2 linked regions of the Homo sapiens genome follow. The protein of the gene in region 1 purifies or fractionates together with the protein of each later gene. This does not show direct contact. Each region holds a gene or a part of one and is shown in the gene's direction. Other genes may lie near its edges.

Region 1 (5,343 bases):
GTTTAGATGAAGGATTTTGCTTTTGAACAGCCATCCAGGAGTGAATGATGCTAAGAGCAACAGAGGGAGAACCATGGAAAGCCATGACAGTGTGCATGTGGACACTGACAGAGATCATGGCTGGACATTTGTGTCCTAGGGTGTGGGCATGAAGGGAAGAATTACAGGTTGTCTACACCCAGCCATGGTCGTAGGCAGGCAATTACGCCCAGAGAGCGTGTATATGGGTCATAAGAAGAAATGTCCCTGCACCGCCTCCGAGGAGGGAAGTATCATTGGCAATTATCCAGACATAAGAACACAGGGAGTGGAGTCTCAATCCTGGCCCTCTTCTTTGATGTGTTATGTGGGCCTGTTTCCATGCAGACAGGCTTCCAGCTTGGCCTTTGGAAAGCAGGCTAAGATTGCTGGAAAATGTGACCATTGGCATCTGCACGATGGTATCTGTGATGCGGTGCTTCGTTCCAGGGCACCTTGTCTATCTTCTGAGATGCTATTACCTTGTGCCTACGAGCTGTACCTTCTGCTTGTGAGGTGAGAGGGCCCAGGCTGAGGGAAGGGGCTCAGAGCTTCTGTGGGGTCGTACGGCAGCTCTGGGCTTGTTGGTGGAACTTGGCTTGCCTTGACCCTTAGATAAATCTGAATCCTTGAGGGGAGCAGGTGGGTGGGACGGGTGTACGGGTGCACATTCTCTCCTGGCCTCTGAGCCCGCCTCTCCTGCTGTTTTTCATGCCATTTTTTCATGTTTTTTTGTGTGTTGTTCCCAAGCCAGCCCCTAAGATTTGCAGGGCCTGGGGCGAGAGTACACATGGAGCCTTCATTCCATCATCTAAAGTTATAAATCAACTAGGATAGGTCCCAACCTCCTACCCTGACAAAAGTACCTTCACAATGTCATGGAAGGCCAGGTTCAAGTTTAGAAGTTTCTGACTCCTCGGAGTTCTGCCTGGGAACTTGGGGAGTTGGAGAGCCGGCCCCAGCCCTCAGCCTGTCCTCTTCTCATCCCTGTCTCTGTTTTACTCCCAGAGTCCCAGCTTGGTCCAGAGCCCTGCAAACAGCTTGCCTCGGGTCTGTTTTGTGTGTGTGTATGTGTGTGTGTGTGTGTTTAGACTTAGCCTATTTACTATCCAGTTAGTGAATAACAGACCATGTACAAGTTATCGTCAGGTAAAAGATCAATACAACAAGAGATGTAAAGATGAAGCGTGTGTGTATGTATGTGTGGGCTGGGGGTGCGTGCGGTGTTAAGTTGCACATCTGCTGGAGTCAGATCATGGATAGCCTTGAATTACAGGCTGCAGAGCTGGGACTGAGCATGATGAGGTGGGGGTTTCTGAAGGTTCTGAGCGAAGAGGAATGAAATCGCAGCTGAACGGGAAGGAGACCAGTCAGGCAACAGCGTGGAGGAGCGGGGATGTGTCAGGAGGCTATGACAATAACCGCAAATGTCTCTTGTTTTTCAGGAAGTGATGTTCTGCAATGGATCGTCCAGCGGCTTTGGATCTCCAGTCTGGGTGAGAGCTCATCTGGCACTCAGTTATCCGGGACAGCTTTGTGTACAGCACCATGGGAGAAACTAAATAGAGACTTAGCCTGTGTTTCTGAGAAATTTACATTTTAATTGGACAGACATGACCTTCGTGTGTAAAAGTACCAGAATCAAAAGCAAAGGCAGGATAATTTGGGGACGAAAGAGTTATTTTGTACAAAATATTTAGAGCATAAATAACAGGGATAAGTGGGGAGGACTCAGTCAAGAAAGTCCTGGAGGGGGTGCTGTGTATAGCTGGTCTTGAAAGAAGTGATGCTTGTGAATTGGTGAAGAGGAGCTCTGAGGGTCTTCCTATAAGGGGACACTAGCAAGAGCAATGGTTTAGAAATGGAATGAGTGGAAAGTGGAGGAGTGACAAGGGAGATTGAGAGTCATGGCTCCAGATGGCTATGGAGGGTGGCAGAGGGGTGGAAGAGCACCTGCAGATCTGGGAGATAGGCAATAGGAAGCCACAGGCAATTTTTGAGCATGGCAATGTGCCTGATAATCATATTTCAGCTAGGGTGCCTCGCAGTGTCAGGCCTCTGAGCCCAAGCTAAGCCATCATATCCCCTGTGGCCTGCACGTATACATCCAGATGGCCTGAAATGAACTGAAGAATCACAAAAGAAGTGATATTTACATGGCCTGTTCCTGACTTAACTGATGACATTCCACCACAAAAGAAGTGAAAATGGCCAGTCCTTGCCTTAACTGAGGGCATTACCTTGTGAAATTCCTTCTCCTGGCTCATCCTGGCTCAAAAAGCTCCCCCACTGAGCACCTTGTGACCCCCCACTCCTGCCCGCCAGAGAACAACCCCCCCTTTTTCCTTTACCTACCCAAATCTTATAAAACAGCCCCACCCCTATCTCCCTTCGCTGACTCTCTTTTCGGACTCAGCCCGCCTGCACCCAGGTGAAATAAACAGCCTTGTTGCTCACACGAAGCCTGTTTGGTGGTCTCTTCACACGGACACGAGTGAAAGGCAGCAATTTAGAAAATGGATTGGAGCAGAAAGAAACTGGAGAGTAGATTTCACACTAGAAAATAGGCTGTTGGTACAATGAGGCATACAACTTTAGGACTTGGTCTTTGATGGAGGGAGCGAGACCTGGAGAGGGAGGGCTGGGGAGGAAGTCTTCCCACACCTTGGAGGCTGAGCTATGGGATGGGGAGATGGGTTGGGTCCTTGGGCTGGGGGGTCCTGCAGGAATGGAGGGATGGAATCCTCCCCAGAGGATGGAAGGATATCTGCTTTCATTGATGCTTTGGAGAAAGAACCAAGGAAGTTTGTCCTTTAATTGATATAATTGATAAACAAGGCTGTGCTTCCGAATAAACTGGAGCAGGGTGGGAATTAAAGTGAAGTGGGAAGGAGAGGAAGGGTCTGGACCCGAGATGCAGGCAGAGGTGAGCTTGGGATAGAAGTTGGCAATAAACATGATGCTCCTTGCTCATTCTTGGAGTGACAAAGTGTCTGTTGGTCCAACAGAGACATTTTCTTCCCAGTCCTGTGACCTTTCCCAGACCCAAAGGGCCTATAGAGGCTTCTCTAGGCCTTCCTTAACCATCACCCGCTGCAGCAGACCACGTGTGGTTTCTGTTAACATCCAGATTTCCTAGTTCCCATCTAGACTTATTGAGTTGTCACTCCTGGGGATAAGACCTGGGAGGTCCTCCTTTTAGCGTGCAACCCAGCTCACGCTTGTCCACAGCCAAGTTCAGCAACCAGTGTCCTCACTGCTCATGAGATGCAGTGCTGTTAGGAAGGGGCACCTGTCCTGGAGTTTGGGGTGCCGTGGGGGCCGGCAATGAGCTCCTGTCTCAGCCCTGCTCTTAACATCCATGTCTGAACTGCTTTTCCCAGAGGCACAGAACTTGGGCAACTTTATTGTCAGGTATGGCTACATTTACCCCCTGCAAGACCCCAAGAATCTCATTCTCAAGCCTGATGGCAGCCTCTACAGATTTCAGGTGAGTCTTGGCCTTGACCCTGGCTGTTCATATGGGGTTGATCTCATTTGAAAAGGTGGGGTTCATAGTTTCACAGATCAAGGACTTCAGAAATGGTGGAGGGGGCCAAGGTGGTTGGATTTCTTTAGTCACAGGGTTGGGGTCCATTGAGTCACAATCCAGTTTTAAAGCGTGGTTTCCCTGGTTTCTTTTGCAGACACCGTATTTCTGGCCCACCCAGCAGTGGCCAGCTGAAGATACCGATTACGGTAAATACTTCAGCCCCAACTATGCCTTTGGTAGTGCTTAACATGCTGCTTATTTACTTGCTGCACTTTGGTGACATTTGTCTTGCTGTCATCATGACCTTTCTGTCAGTCCACATCTGTACTGGGCATGTCCCCAGGGGCAAGGGGCTGGGTGTGCTGAGCGTTCTCTCCCCGACTCTGAGCACAGCAGCCTCAGGCTTAGGGAGGCTGCAGATGGGGTTTTGAAAGATGATGATGGAAAATGTCATTGCTTTCTTTTCCAGCCATCTATCTGGCCAAGCGAAATATCAAAAAGAAAGGGATTTTGGAAGAATATGAAAAGGTATGGAGGTGCTTTTAAGTAGAGGTTGTTATAATTGAGTGGAAGATAGTTTTGAGCTGTACTTTCCTCATTCCCACATCACTACATTCATATGCGCCCACATTCATATGCAATCCATCCAGCCAGCCAGCTAGCCATCCATTTATTAATTAGAAGCAGCTAGCTGAAGTAAATTCTTTCTCATGTCTAACTTCAGTTTCTCTTGCTGTAATTTAAGCCCTTGCCTCAGTGGCTACTGGGCACACAGTGGCTACCCACTTCCTTTTGCCATCCCAAAACAATGTGACATAATAAATATGTACTCTAATGGACAACCCTTGGTTAACAGATTTGAACTTGAATTGTTTTTTTTGTTTTTTTGAGACAAGGTCTTGCTCTGTTGCCTGGGCTGAAGTACAGTGGCATGATCTCAGCTCACTGCAACCTCCACCTTCCAGGTTCAAGCGATTCTCCTGCCTTAGCCTCCCGAGTAGCTGGGATTACAGGCGTGTGCCACCACGCCTGGCTAATTTTTGTATTTTTAATAGAGATGAGGTTTCACCATGTTGGCCAGGCTAGTCTCGAACTTCTGACCTCAAGTGATCTGCCTGCCTCGGCCTCTCAAAGTGCTGGGATTACAGGTGTGAGCCATCGTGCCTGGCCCGAACTTCAATTTATGATGGGAAAACAATAGGACTGTATAGACTTTTGTTTTAGGCTGGGTGAGTCCAGTTTCCCAAAGAACACATGCTAGCCCTCAAAAGGCCAAAATTTCTGGGTGGAGGGTTAAAATCTTGCTGTGTTTTTATTTTTATTTATATATTTATTTATTTATTTATTTATTTATTTGAGACAACGTCTTGCTCAATCACCCAGGCTGGCCTATAGTGGTGCAGTCTCGGCTCACTGCAACTTCTGTCTCCTGGGCTCAAGCCTCAGCCTCCCAAGCAGCTGGGACTACAGGAGCACACCACCATACCCAGCTAATTTTTGTATTTTTTGTAGAGACAGGAGGCCCAGGCTAGTCTCAAACTCCTGGGCTCAAGTGATCCATCCACCTCAGCCTCCCGAAGTGCTGGGATTACAGGCGTGAGCCACCATGCTAGGCCACGTGTTTTTATTCTTACAAACATGTTTTCAGAAAGGCCGGTTTATCTTTGTTTTATCTTAGGGTTTATTTTGTGAATTTGTGATGCTCTGTTGTTGAATAGTGAGTTTCCAGGTTGGGTGTGGTGGCTCACGCCTATAATCCCAGCATTTTGGGAGGCCAAGATGGGAGGATCACT
Region 2 (3,500 bases), on another chromosome or scaffold:
GCGCTGGCACTGCTTCCTGCTGCTCCTGGGCCTCCACTGCAGCCTGGGGCAGGTGGAGGTCTAGGGGGTTGGCTGTCAGCCATCTATGATCTCTGACTTCTTTCTCTTTTCTCAAATGGTGGTATCTCTTCTTTGAATGTACCCCGGCGTCTGCTTCCTCTGGGGAGCTTGTAAGGATGAGCTGTGCTCTCAGCTCCTTGGCAATGGGTTCCAGGCAGCGTGCCGAGGGAGGGCAGTCAGGCCTGGGGGGCTGGCAGGGGTCTCAGTGCCGGCGCCTCCCCTGCCCTGCAGGATCTCCCCTCCTCACTGCCCTCCCCGAGTCTCCAGGATCAGCCGCCTTTTGGGGCTCCCTCCAAGGCCCTCTCCCCATAAAACCAGGTTTGGTTATGCCTGTCCTCTGCTCCCCAAGTCCTCCCCTGCACTGCCACTCCTGGGACCACAGACTGTGATCATCTTTCTCCAGCTGGACTCTGAGCTCTCGGAGAGCAGGAGCCTGATGTGGTCATTCTTACATCCTCGGGGCAGCCCAGCAGAGAGCCCTGCACACAGATGCCAGGCAGTACTGACTGGAGGAGCGAGTGTGGTGTGAGTCGTGCTCTGTGGCCCTGAGATGTAGGGGCTGTGGCGGGGGCTCAGCCTTAACCAGTGGAACTGTGGAGCCTAAATGAGCCGGACTTGATTTCTCCTCCACACCTAAGCTCAGTGGCCAAGGGGGCACAGTCCCCACTCCCAGCTCAGGTCACTCTAGTGGCTGCTCCTGGCAGTGCCTGGGAAGATGTGCAGTGGAGGAGGGAGCTTGGCTCTGGCTGTGGGTTTCCAGCTCTCTGTTAGGCAGCTGCAGGCCAAGGTGGCTCTGTGGAGTGGGGAGCATGTTCCTGTGGAATCCTTGGGGTCTCAGAGCCTCACCACTCTGGCCTCATAATGTGGCTCAATGAGCTTGAGTGTGGACAGCCCGAGGCCCTGGACACAGGTTCACTGGGCCTCCCAGAAGCCTCCGGCTGCCCTTTTCTGAACAGATCCCAGTGAGGTGGCTCAGGGCAAGCGAGACCTGCTCCTCCCCGGAGGGATCACACAGATGACAGGGAAATGCTCCTGGGGAATCAGAATGAAATTTACTGATTGAGGATAGGAGAGTGATGAGATCATATGAGTTTACTGAATCTGTTTAGCAGAATGAAAGGGCAGTGCCGTGTACTACAGCTCCTGGGGGGTGGGGAATAACGCCATGCCAGCTGTCCAGGTGCCCCTGAGAGGCAGCTGAGAACGCTGCCCTCCGCCGACCAACTTCAGCTAATAGGAACCAGGGGCTGGGGCTGGCCGCCTCTACAGGTCATGGTAGAATGATGTAGGCACGGGGGAGATACTGAAGGGAGGACTGGCCGTAAGACGCACGGAGCCCGCCATGCTGCTGTTAGTATCGATTCCTCGAAAGCCCCACAGCCTGCTGATATGGACTGGAGAGACCCATTGCATAAGTTCTGGATCTGGCCCAGCTGTGTCACCGCGGTGTCCCCTCAGGCCAGATGAGGTTAAGTGACATGGGCAGGGAGAGCGCTGGCACAGTGTGGGCCTCAGTGACTGGTGTGGTCACTTCATCTTCATTGCCCTCCTTCTGCTCAGAGGGGGGCGGTGTGGCAGTGGGACCAGCAATTCCTCAGCACCCACGGTGTGCTCACCCCTGGGGGAGGAGGTCATCTCCCCGTAGATGCCCAGTGGCATCTACACCAGCTGTCTTCTTTTTCTTGTTACTTGTGTCACTCTTCTTATTTCAGAGGTAGAGTTTAGCCTGGTTCACCTCTGGGCTTTAGATCCAGAGAGCTGGGTTTACAGTGAGCAAGTTCCCAGGGCTAGGACAGGGTTCTTGGGGAAAATAAGGGAAACTGTCCCTTCCTCCCACTCCCTGTGCAGAAATGGATTCGTTCACAGAGAAAGATGCCCTCTGTGCTGCTGAGAGACAGACTCTGCCCAAGTGAATGAGCTCAGCGCCCCAAAGCAGAGTTTTTGCCCAGGGCAAGAGGCTGCCCCCGTTCGGCATCTGTGGGGCGCCCATCACGTTCATCCATTTGCTAAACAGGCTCCTGTGTGCAGGGCAGCCCTCCACATCTGCCTTGCTTAGAACATCATGCAGTGTCAGATGCAGCTGAGTAGGACCCAGCCAGAGGAGGTGTGGCCAGTCCCCCAGGTGCTCCTGGAGGTGGCCCTGCCAGGAGCCTCTCCCCTGAGTGGTGGCACCCAGGATGCTGGCAGGACCTGGCATGCCTTCCCCTGAGACCATAGGAAGGGCCCGGAGTCTCTCACCACTCCCAGAGAACATCCCCCTACCCAGGATGGGCCCAGGAGGAGAGGTCTAGGCAGGAAGGGCCAAAGCCCAGCTCTCCGGCTCCGGTCCAGACTCCCCCAACGCCCACACACACAGGCACACACACAGGCACGCACACACACTCAAGCACATGGATGCACACAGGCATGCACACACAGGTGCACACACATAGGCACACATGCACACGAACACACACAGGCACACATAACAGGTGCATGCACACACACACAGGCACATGCACACAGCCACACACACGTGTGCTGGGAGACCCTCACATAGCTGGGAACTCTGCAGTGGGGAGAGCCCGGGTCACCCTGTCCTCAGCCTCCCCAGAGAGCCATGGCTGGTGTCCAGTCCAGTCTCTGCCTCTGGCCCCGACATGACGGGTTCTCCGGAAGCAGGGAATGAGATGTGCTGTGAGGTGTAACTGACTCAGGTTCCATCTGGCAGCCTCTCGGAGGAGCTGCCGAGTAGCCCAGTCCCTCTCTGTCAAGCCTAATTCTCTCCTTCTCTTTCCCTGTCTCTGTGTCTCCCTCCCGCTGTCTGTCCTCTCTCCTCCCTTCCTGCGGCCGCAGAACCGCATGCACGAGTCTCTCATGCTCTTCGACTCCATCTGTAACAACAAGTTCTTCATCGATACCTCCATCATTCTCTTCCTCAACAAGAAAGATCTCTTTGGCGAGAAGATCAAGAAGTCACCTTTGACCATCTGCTTTCCTGAATACACAGGTGGGTGCCAGGCAGTCCTGTGCAGGGGGAAGCCTGCCCCTGACAGGGACCCATGGCTCAGAGAACAGGCTGCTCGGCCAGCACTGCTGGGGCTAGCTGGCGAGCGGGACCCATTGCAGGAGACTGGTGGGGCGCAAAAGAAAAACAGTGCTGTGCCACCAGGTTTGGGCTTCCCAGGACACAGCCCTCAGCGTGGTGGAAATGGCCCCTCCTAAGATATATGTGTTAGGACCAAGTGACTCAGGAGTGGTGGGGAGCAGGGGGCAGGACAGGATCACAGGCTTCCCCCTTCCTCCTGGTCACCCTCTAGAAGAGGTCTCAGGACAGCCTCCTGTAATCTCAGCAGTGGCCTCCCCTCACCCCTGCCCAGAGCCCCACAGCACCTTTGCATGAAACCGAAAAGTGGACACGTGGCCTGTGAACAGGGCCTGGACTGCCTCTTGGCCCCACC

What was found. The genes of interacting proteins can lie anywhere in the genome.
Region 2: the proteins of RGS9 (region 1) and GNAO1 purify together in Homo sapiens (affinity purification with western blotting, with the first as the bait; one study listed by BioGRID). This does not show direct contact.

Annotation. Positions count from the first base shown.
Region 1 is NC_000017.11:65,156,832-65,162,174, forward strand, and holds part of RGS9 (regulator of G-protein signaling 9), read left to right. Parts: intron 1-1,463; coding exon 1,464-1,514; intron 1,515-3,401; coding exon 3,402-3,508; intron 3,509-3,704; coding exon 3,705-3,756; intron 3,757-4,019; coding exon 4,020-4,078; intron 4,079-5,343. UniProt on the Homo sapiens protein: Inhibits signal transduction by increasing the GTPase activity of G protein alpha subunits thereby driving them into their inactive GDP-bound form. Binds to GNAT1. Involved in phototransduction; key element in the recovery phase of visual transduction.
Region 2 is NC_000016.10:56,348,489-56,351,988, forward strand, and holds part of GNAO1 (guanine nucleotide-binding protein G(o) subunit alpha), read left to right. Parts: intron 1-2,895; coding exon 2,896-3,049; intron 3,050-3,500. UniProt on the Homo sapiens protein: Guanine nucleotide-binding proteins (G proteins) function as transducers downstream of G protein-coupled receptors (GPCRs) in numerous signaling cascades.